2 separate regions of the Homo sapiens genome follow, and region 1 is linked to region 2. The links come from fine-mapping of genetic effects on gene expression. Tissue or cell type: visceral fat. Region 2 holds a variant in brackets; the other region holds the start of a gene. All regions are shown on one strand. Distances are from middle to middle.

Evidence for each region. PIP is the estimated chance that this variant, and not a neighbour inherited with it, causes the effect. A credible set is the group of variants that fine-mapping cannot tell apart.
Region 1: TTYH1 starts here. The variant in region 2 is the best candidate, but not a certain one, in a credible set for the expression of TTYH1 in visceral fat (GTEx, PIP 0.66).

Annotation. Positions count from the first base shown.
Region 1 is chr19:54,413,090-54,418,240 of GRCh38, reverse strand. It overlaps TTYH1 (tweety family member 1), which reads right to left and starts at 2,777. Exons shown (of 14, transcript NM_020659.4): 1 at 2,563-2,777. The coding sequence starts at 2,688. LOC124904770 (LIM domain-containing protein A-like) reads right to left here and starts at 1,139. Exons shown (of 1, transcript XM_047439797.1): 1 at 1-1,139. The coding sequence starts at 1,105.
Region 2 is chr19:54,390,935-54,396,085 of GRCh38, reverse strand. No RefSeq gene overlaps it. Among named protein-coding and RNA genes, the nearest start is that of TTYH1, 22 kb to the left of the region's middle. RefSeq lists an enhancer at 4,090-4,637. The variant T/C (reference allele first, on the strand shown) is at 2,297.

The DNA.
Region 1 (5,151 bases), 22 kb before region 2:
CAGAATAACAGGGCTCTCCACGTGGCGGGGATTTCACAGCTGACCTGTGCGGTCCCAGAGGCCCACAGTGGCCCAGGGGGTTTGCACTGAGCCCCGGAGCATGGAGGGACAACATTGGGATCAGAGTCACACCTCTGGACTTGCCAAGGCTGTTTCCCCTAAACCACGGTGTTTCTGCCTTTGTCCACACACATACACACACACAGTGGCACAGTGTGTGTGTGTGTGTGTGTCCCAAGTGTGTGCAGTGTTTGTGTTTCTGGTTGAGACTGGATGTTTTTATCTTTGGGCTGTCTCCATGAGATGAGGGGGCACCTGAGTGTGTCTCCTGGGTGCACTGCTGTCTGCAAATGAGAACATCTGTGGGCATTTGTGTGTTCTGGGCACAGTTCCTTGGGCCTGTGAGTGGGTCCGGTTGTGTGTGTGTAACAGTGTGGATGAGTGTGTGTGTGGATGCGTGACTGCATGTGAGTGTGTGTGTGCACATGAATGCTATAGTCAATATGTGTGTGCATGTGTGTGTAGATGTGAATGGAATGTACGTGTGTGTGTGTATGGGAGTATAAACGTGTATGTGACGGTGCATGCATGAGTGTGTAAGCATATATATATAAGTGCAGTGTGTGCTTGTATATGGGAGTAAATGCTTATACATGTGTATGTGTGTGTTGTGAGTCACTGTGCGCAATGTGCGTGTGCATATGTGTGATTGTGTATGTGTAAGTGGGTATATCCATGTGAGTGTATGCATGTGTCTATATGCGTGTGTTGTATGTGGGTGTGAGTGCATAGCGGGAGTAGTAAATGGGTATGTGTGTGTGCATATGTGAGTGTGTAATGAGAGTAGGTGGGCGTGTGTGTGTACCTGTGCATATGTGTGTGTGCATGTGTGTAATGAAAGTAAGTGGGCGTGTCTGAGTGTGTGCATGTGAGTGTGCATGTGAGTGTGTAATGGGAGTAAGTGGGTGTGTCTGAGTGTGCCTGTGCATATGTGTGTGCATGTGAGTGTGTTGGAATAAGTGGGCGTGTCTGGGTGTGCCTGTGCATATGTGTGTGCATGTGAGTGTGTAATGGGAGTAAGTGGACGTGTGTGTGTGCTGTGCATATGCCAGTGAGTGTGTGCGTGTGGCTGTGTGCCTCCCCCGGGCCAGTGTCCCTGAGGCCCTGGCTGTGTCTGCAGCTGTACCCACGGTGGTCGCGTCCCTGCAGGGGTCCCCCTTGCCCTCCTCGGCTGTGGGGCTCTGCCCGCGCATCCCTGCCACCCTGACCCTGACCCCCGACCGTGGGGGCGGAGTGAGGCTCCCCCAAACCCGTGCCTCTGGCGGTGACTGGGGCCGCGGATCCCCGCGTGCGGCTTCGGGAGGTCTCCGGGCCAGAGCGGGCGTGAGTCTGGGCCGAGGCCGGAGCCGGTGGAGCGGCGTTGTTGGAGGTGGCCGTTGTGTAACCGCGAGGCTGTGGGCGAGGGGACGGCGGTCCCCGTGTGTGGGGAGAGGGGGCGGCGAGGAGCAGGCGGGGAAGAGCTGCTCAGGGCTGTGCCAGCCGTGACCCAAATAGCTCAGAACACAGCACTCATCCCCTCCGCGCTTTTCTGGGACCCCCTCCACGCCCCCTGAGCTCTCCAATCCCAGCCCCCTTCTCCCAGGAGCAACCCAAGACGGAGCCCAGGGGCTCAGGCCCCATCAGCAGGGCCAGGACCCGTCCTGGGGCCACATCGGGACTCCCAGCACCCCCACCCGTCCCCAGCTCAGCCAAGCCTTTCTCCTCATTAATCTCGAAGTCAAGGACTTGAATTAAACTGGGTCAGGGGACAGCTCTTTCGCCCATTGGAGCTGCCCCGAGCCGGGCCCCTTCCCCAGGGACACCGGCTTCTGTGAGGTTCCCACACCGGCCCCACCCTCGGGACCCGGGTCTGTCATCCCGAGGCTCCCCAAACCCAGCCTCATCTCGGCCCTCACCCCTGCAGCGCCCTGACCACCCCTTCTTTCTTGGGACGGGCAAGAAGCTTCCTCTCCCAGAGCCCCTTCATTTTCCAGCCCTGGTCCTCAGCCCCTGAAGCCCCCTTCCCCATTTCAGACTCTCAATCCCATCCCAGCACCGCAGCAGCCAGCGTTTTCCCCGCCACCGTTATCAGGTCCGCTGTCTCCTGGGTCCCACCTTATCTGGGACATATTCACCTGCTCTGATCCTGTGGGGCAGGGTCATCTTTTAGGGCAGGAAGAGTAGACCTACCCTCCCGATGACCCTGGAGGCCGGCTTCCCAGGCAGGTATCAGACACCCGGGAATCCGGGCCCCCCTCCCCTCCTCTCCATGAACTCAGGGGTGCAGGTCCCCAGCCTTCCCTTATTTAGAGAGCTCGAGGTCTGGACCCCCAGCGCGCGTCCCAGGAGAACCTCCAGGCATGGGCGCCCCCAGGCTCCTCCTCCCTCCGAAACCCCAAAGTCCGGGCCGGCCCCCAGCCTCCGGCGGAGCTCAGGAAATCTGTGACCCAGCCCCCTTCTCCCTCGGGACCCAGGAGCTCCGGCCCCCAGCCCTGGCCCCCAGGCCCTGGCGCCCGGTCCCACCTGCTGGTATTCCTGCTCTTGGGGCGCGAAAACGCTGGGCACCGGGCGGAGCTGGAAGTCGGCGCGGGGCAGCTGGTGGAGGAGATGCACCCAAGCTGAGGGCCGGTAGCCCGGGGGCGCCCCCATGGCCCCCGGGGGAGGGGGCAGCGGGGCGGACGCCGGGGCTGCGGGAGCCTCCGGAGTCGAGCGGGGCGCGGGCGGCGCGGGGTCTGGCTGGGCTCAGGGGAGCGGGAGCGGGGGGGAGGCAGGGGGTGGGGGGCGGAGATTGGGGGGAGGGAGGCGCGGGCCGGGCGGGGACGGTGCTGCCCCTGGTGGTCGCGGCGGGGACTGCGGGAGTCGGGAGGCCCCCAGCGCTCCGCGCCCCACCCCGGTCGCGGCTCCCACCTGCTGCCCGCGCAGGTACCGCGCTGCTGGCGTCGGCGGCATCCGGACAGCTGGCTTGCATCGCGATTGAAATCAGCCCTCCTTGTCCATACGAGGCCACTCATACTGTTATTTCACCTAAAACATAATGATCCCTTTATCCTTATGGAGAAACTTCATGTCTGTGTAAAGGTTGCTAGTAAGTACAGAGCGTTTTACAAAGAACGGCCAATTCCATGGATAAGAAGTCCTCTGTGTACGAAAGTGCTCCCACCTGTAAAAGATGCCCGTATTTGTGTAAAATCTCCGTCCCACTTTTATTCCTAGCCTGCATAAGGACACAGCTTCTAAGCACAAACACTCCTATGTGTAGAGGCTACTCCAGAATGTATGGAAAAATCCACACGCCTGTGTAGCAAGCCTTCATGCTGCATAAGGACCCCTTCTACCTGCATAAGGACCCTGGTCATCTATATAGGGGCCCTTCCCATCCTGTAAACTGACTCGGGATTACTTCGGTGTATACAAGGACCCCTGCCCCTTGGCATTCGCCATACAGTTACAGAGTATTTTTCCAGCCACTCCCCATGTTACATCTCACTGGAATCCTCCGATGCCACACCGATAGATGGGGAAGTGCCAACCCTGGGAGGGGACCTGGCCACCCTGACATCATCACCCAGACTGTCACTATTGCAGCCAAAACTAGGTGCTCAGGAATCTGGCCCCAGGGGTCCCCTCTTGCTGTAGGGCAGGGTGAGACTTTGCCATCTGGAAACCACACACGTGGCCTCTCTTGTGGGAATTGGGATGAGTGGAAGAAAGGGAGATTAGTTCTCCACTTAACCCATTTCCATATTTTGCTCCAGATTGGCAAGAAAGGGCTAGGGAAAAGAGGAATGCTGGTGGTAGCGGAGGTGGTGGTGATGACGATGATGGTGGTGATTATGTTGGTGATATGATGTCATGATGATGGTGATGGTGGTGATGGTGATGATGATGGTGGTGGTGGTGTTGATGATGGTGATGGTGATGATGATGATGATGGTGAAGACATGATTATGTTGACATGTCATGATGATAATTATGATGATGATGGTGGTGGTGATGGTGGTGACGGTGGTGATGATGGTGATGGTGGTGATGATGTTGGTGATGGTGATGGTGGTGGCGATGGTGGTGGTGGTGATGGTGGTGATGGTGGTGGTGATGATGGTGGTGATGGTGATGATGTTGGTGATGGTGGTGGTGGTGGTGATGGTGGTGGTGATGTTGGTGATGGTGGTGATGATGTTGGTGATGGTGGTGGTGGTGATGGTGGTGATGATGTTGGTGATGGTGATGGTGGTGATGGTGGTGATGATGCTGGTGATGGTGGTGATGATGTTGGTGATGGTGATGGTGGTGATGGTGGTGATGATGTTGGTGATGGTGGTGATGGTGGTGATGATGTTGGTGATGGTGGTGGTGATGGTGGTGATGATGTTGGTGATGGTGGTGGTGATGGTGGTGATGGTGATGTGGTGATGGTGGTGGTGGTGATGGTGGTGATGGTGGTGATGATGCTGGTGATGGTGGTGATGGTGGTGATGATGTTGGTGATGGTGATGGTGGTGACGGTGGTGATGGTGGTGGTGGTGGTGATGGTGGTGGTGGTGGTGATGGTGATGGTGAAGATGAGGATATGATGATGATGATAGTGATGATGATGATGGTGGTGAAGACAAGATTATGTTGACATGTCATGATGATAATGATGATGATGATGGTGGTGATGATGGTGATGAGGACGATGATGATGACGGTGAGGAGGAGGATAGTGATATTGGTGAAGGTATTGATGATGAAATGGGAGAGTGAGAATAGGCGCCTTATCTCTGTCTCTCTCTCTCTCTCTCACACACACACACACACACACACACACACACACACACACACACCCTCTCTCATCACTACCCTAGGTCTTCTTCAGCTTTCTCTGGTTCTGGCTAGAGTCATGTTCTCCACCATTCCCAACCAGGTGGCCTACATGGGGCTTGGGGATGAAGAAGATCCCGAGATGAGCGGTTAGAGGTGTATTAAGTGACTCTAGGCAAGTAGTTTTTCATCTTAGAGTCCCTCTTTTTCTGTCTGTAAAATGAAGGCTTAACCCTTTAGGGCTAAGATTAGTATATTCTAAAACTCTTGTTCTGACAATCTCTTGCATCATGTCCACAGCCAGTGTTT
Region 2 (5,151 bases):
GTAAATGACAGGGTTTCCTTCCTTTCTAAGGCTGGATAGTATTTCCACTGTGTATATATACATTTCCTTTACCCATTGTCCACTGATGGAGACTTAGGTGATTCCATATGTTGGCTATTGTGAATAACTCTGCAATACACATAGGGGTGCAGACATCTCTTCCACACACTGGTTTCAGTTTCTTTGAGCATATACCCAGTAGTGGGATTGCTGCATCATGGAGGGTAAGCTTTTTTTGTTTTGTTTTGAGACAGAGTCTCGCTCTGTCGCTCAGGCTGGAGTGCAGCAATCTCGGCTCACTGCAAGTTCCGCCTCCCGGGTTCAAACTATTCTCCTGCCTCAGCCTCCCGAGTGGCTGGGACTACAGGTGCCTGCCACCACGCCCGGCTAATTTTTTGTATTTTTAGTAGAGATGGGGTTTCGCCATGTTGGCTAGGCTGGTCTCGATCTCCTGACCTCAGGGGATCCGCCTGCCTCAGCCTCCCAAAGTGCTGGGATTACAGGCGTGAGCCACCGCGCCCGGCCACAAAAGCAAATTTATGACAGGGACCTGGTGATGCGTGCTGCATCACACCACATCCTTCCATTCCTTTTCACAAAGAGACTCTAGTGGCTCATGCCTGTAATCCCAGCACTTTGGGAGGCCGAAGCGGGCGGATCACAAGGTCAGGAGTTCGAGACCAGCCTAGCCAACATGGCGAAACCCCATCTCTACTAAAAACACAAAAATTAGCCAGTCACGGTGGCTCACATCTGTAATCCCAGCACTTTGGGAGGCCAAGGCCCACAGATCACAGGGTCAGGAGTTCAAGACCAGCCTGGCCAACATGGGGAAACCCATCTCTACTAAAAATACAAAAATTAACCAGGCGTGGTGGCAGGCGCCTGTAATCCCAGCTACTTGGGAGGCTGAGGCAGGAAAATCACTTGAAACCGGGAGGCGGAAGTTGCAGGGAGCTGAGATCGTGCCACTGCACTCCAGCCTGGGCGACAAGAGTGAAACTTTGCCTCAACAACAACAACAACAACAACAAAAAAAAAAAAAAAAAGAAAAGAAAAGAAAAGAAAAAGAAATGATGCCAGGCATGGTGGCTCACGCCTATAATCCCAGCACTTTGGGAGATCGAGGCGGGTGGATCATCTAAAGTCAGGAGTTCGAGACCAGCCTGACCAACATGGTGAAACCCCATCTACTAAAAATACAAAAATTAGCCGGGCGTGGGGGCAGGTGCCTATAATCCCAGCTGCTCGGGAGGCTGAGGCAGGAGAATCGCTTGAACCTGGGAGACGGAGCTTGCAGTGAGCCGAGATCACAGCCACCGCACTCCAGCCTGGGCAGCAGAGCGAGACTCTATCTCAAAAATAAATAAATAAGTAAATAAGTAAATAAATAAATAAATAAATAAATAGATAGATAGATAGAAATGAGCTCTCAAGCCATGAAAAGACACAGAGGAACCTTAAATGCATATTACCAAGTGGTAGAATCCCATCTGAAAAGGCTACGCATTGTCTGATTCCAACAATATGACATTCTGGAAAAGGCAAAGTATGGAGACAGGAAAAGATCAGAGCTGCCAGGGGTTGGGCGAAGGAAGGATGAATAGGTGGTGCACAGAGGAATTTTAGGGCAATGGCTCTCCTCTGTCTAACACTGTGACGGTGGGTGCCTGCCATTAGACATTTGCCTGAACTCATAGGATGTGCAACAGGAAGACTGAGCGAGCCCTAATATGACTTTGGGTGATTACAATGTGTCAATGCAGGCTCATCAGTTGTAATAAAAATACCGCTCTGGTAGGGAACGCTGGTAATGGGGGAAGCTATGTAGGTGTCGGCGTAGGGAGTACATGGAAAATCTCTACCTTCCCCTCATTTTACTATGAACCTGAACCTGCTCTAAAAATAGTCTTTTTAAAACATTTTTCTTCCTCTTCCTCCTCTTCCTCTTCTTCCTCTTCCTCTTCCTCTTCTTCTTCTTTCTTCTTTCTTCTTCTTATTCTTATTTTATTTTATTTTTTTTGAGACGGAGTCTCGCTCTGTCGCCCAGGCTGGGGTGCAGTGGCGCGATCTCAGCTCACTGCAAGCTCCACCTCCCGGGTTCACACCATTCTCCTGCCTCAGCCTCCCCAGTAGCTGGGACTGCAGGCGCCCGCCACCACGCCCGGCTAATTTTTCTGTGTGTTTTTAGTAGAGACGGGGTCTCCCCGTGTTAGCCAGGATGGTCTCGATCTCCTGACCTCGTGATCCATCCGCCTCGGCCTCCCAAAGTGCTGGGATTACAGGCGTGAGCCAC[T/C]GCGCCCGGCTAAAAATAGTCTTTTAAAGAAAATTTCTCAACCCAAGCACTACTGTATGGAGACAGGGAGGGTCTCCAGGGATTATAGGAATTTAATCAACTTGAGCAATCAGCCTGTTTCACAGCCTTCTGCCCTGCAGCCTGTTTTTCTCCAAACCCTGTGTGGAATGCGGCCACTCGTTGGTTGGAACCAGCCTCTGACGGGCCCTGGCAACTTAGAGATGAACCCGAGTGAACTTTCTGCACTGCTGCGCTCAAGTCTCCATCCCGGGAGGAGCTGTAGTCTCGTTACCGTAACATGCGACCCGTGTGCTGGTATGACGACTCGCTGCATCTGCGTGACTGGGACCCTCCTCCACATACAACGACGCGCCCTCTCCCTGCTCCCTCACCCCATAGAGCCCTCCTGTCCCTTTTCCTCAGGGAGACACTGCTTTGAAGAATACACCCAGTGCCTTCCTTAGCTGTGTCAAGTCATAAAACTCTTCTTGATCAAAACCTCTGTATTAGTTTGTTCTCATGCTGCTAATAAAGACATACCCGAGACTGGTTCATTTACAAAGGAAAGAAGTTTAATGGGCTCATAGTTCCACTTGGCTGGGGAGGGCTAACAATCATGGCGGAAGATGAAGGAGGAGCAAAGTCACGTCTTACATGGCAGCAGGCAAGAAAGAGCGTGCAGGGGCGCTCCCATTTATAAAACCATCAGATCTCGTGAGACTTATTCACTATCACGAGAACAGAATGGGAAAAACCTGCTCCCGTGATTCAGTCGCCTCCCACAGGTCCCTCCCATGACACGTGGGGATTATTATTATTATTATTTTGAGACGGAGTCTCGCTCTGTCACCCAGGCTGGAGTGCAACGGCGTGATCTCAGCTCACTGCAACCTCCACCTCCCAGGTTCAAGTAATTCTCCTGCCTCAGCCTCCCGAGTAGCTGGGACTACAGCTGCCCGCCACCACGCTCGGCTAATTTTTTGTATTTTTAGTAGAGACGGGTTTCACTGTGTTATCCAGGATGGTCTCGATCTTCTGACCTCATGATCTGCCTGCCTCAACCTCCCAAAGTGCTTGGATTACAGGCGTGAGTCACTGCCCCCCATCGACACGTGGGGATCATTACAATACCAGGTGAGATTTGGGTGGGGACACAGAGCCAAACCACATCACCTGCATTCTCGGGAGAGTTGTTTGCTCCTCACCAGGCAAAGGAACCCTGTTTTTTTCTGGGTAACACTGTTGACTTTCGGGGCTAGGTTATTCCTTGGGGGAGGAGCTGTCCTGTGCATCCCCCGCCTCCACCCCCCACCACCCAGAAGCATCCCCCTCTCCTCTGGGTTGTGACAATCAAAAGTGTCTCCAGACTTTCCCTAGTGTCTGCATTTGGGACCCTTCTATTATTACTGCTGATTCCATGAGTACATGGTAATTACCCGCTGAGTTCCAGGGACTCCACTATAATTATCCAGCTGGTTTTGGGAGCTCCTGGTGCAATTATCCAGCTGGTTCCTGAGACTGCACCGCGATTCCTTAGCTGATTTCCATGACTCTACACACTGCCAGCGCCTGTACATAATTATACACTAGTTTCTAGAGCCTTTCTGTAATTATTCAGCCTTTTATAGAAATCTAATCATAACTACCTGGGCAATTTGTTTTGTTAAGTAGAGTGCTAATGAGTGGTCGCCAATGTTTCAGCTCCTCTTCTGAGTACCAGGGACGTGGGTAGAACTTTGATCCTATCTTATCCTTACAGGATATTGAGAGGAGAGGAGAGAAGTTGACATGGCACCACCCAGTGGAATGACATAGTCAGCACAGAGTGCAGTGGGAGCACAGAGGAAGAGTGCCAGGCCCATCGTGTCCAGCTGTGTAGGTTGTGCACTGCACAACTCTGGGGTCATATCACAAACTGTGAGTGTGAAGAGCCTTGTAAGGCTTCCAGGACAGGTTTCTAGGGGTCACCAGATGCAGTTCTAGAGCAAGGCTGAGGAATCCTGACTCCTAGAAAGAAGGGGGCAGGGAATTGCTGAGGACGTTTGAAGTCTAATGGGATGACACGTCCCCTGCTGTGACAGGCAGCTCAGGTTTCTAGTTGAAGTCTGGGAAGAAGAAGGCTCCATGAAGGCGCTTCTATTTGGAGTCATTTGTGTTACTTCCCAGCTCACTCAGGGTGATCATGGTGACCAACAGGGCTCTACACAGGACCTGTGGCCCCAACCCTCACCCCTCTGCATTCTCTTCCTGCCACTTCCCTCTTCCTACCCCTCTGTCTGCAACTGCCACACTATTCCCCCTGCTGAGCTTTGCACCCTCCAGACCCCCTGGACCACCGCTGCACTTTCTCATTTATCCAAATCACTCTCACCTTCTAGCTGACTGTGACTGTATAATGCCTGTGGGTTACTGCCCCTCTCCTTCTGCAAGAATATAAGCTCTTCCATGGAAAGGGTGTTTGTTTTCTATATTGGTGGACCTCTAGAGCCTCAAACAGTGTCTGGCACACAGGACAGGACCAACAAATACTTACTGAATGAAAAAAATGAATGCCAGATGGAAAAAATAAAAATGAACTAAGCAGGGAGTTTCTCCACTGTGGCCACAAGAGGGAGCCCAAGCTATGTGTTAAACCCTTCCAGCACTAAGGTGGGTGGTCTCTCTGCTCCTCAGCCTGGAGGACCAGGGACAGGTGTGACCTGAACCACGTCCTTTCTCCTCTGTGAGCCTCTATTTCCCCATGTGTAGCGTGGAGATGGAAATGCCTGAAAGGAGTTCCCGTAAGAAGCGGAAAAACCAACAACGCATGCACGTGAATGTCTTCCAAGGGGTTATTGCATGTGTCCAAATTCATC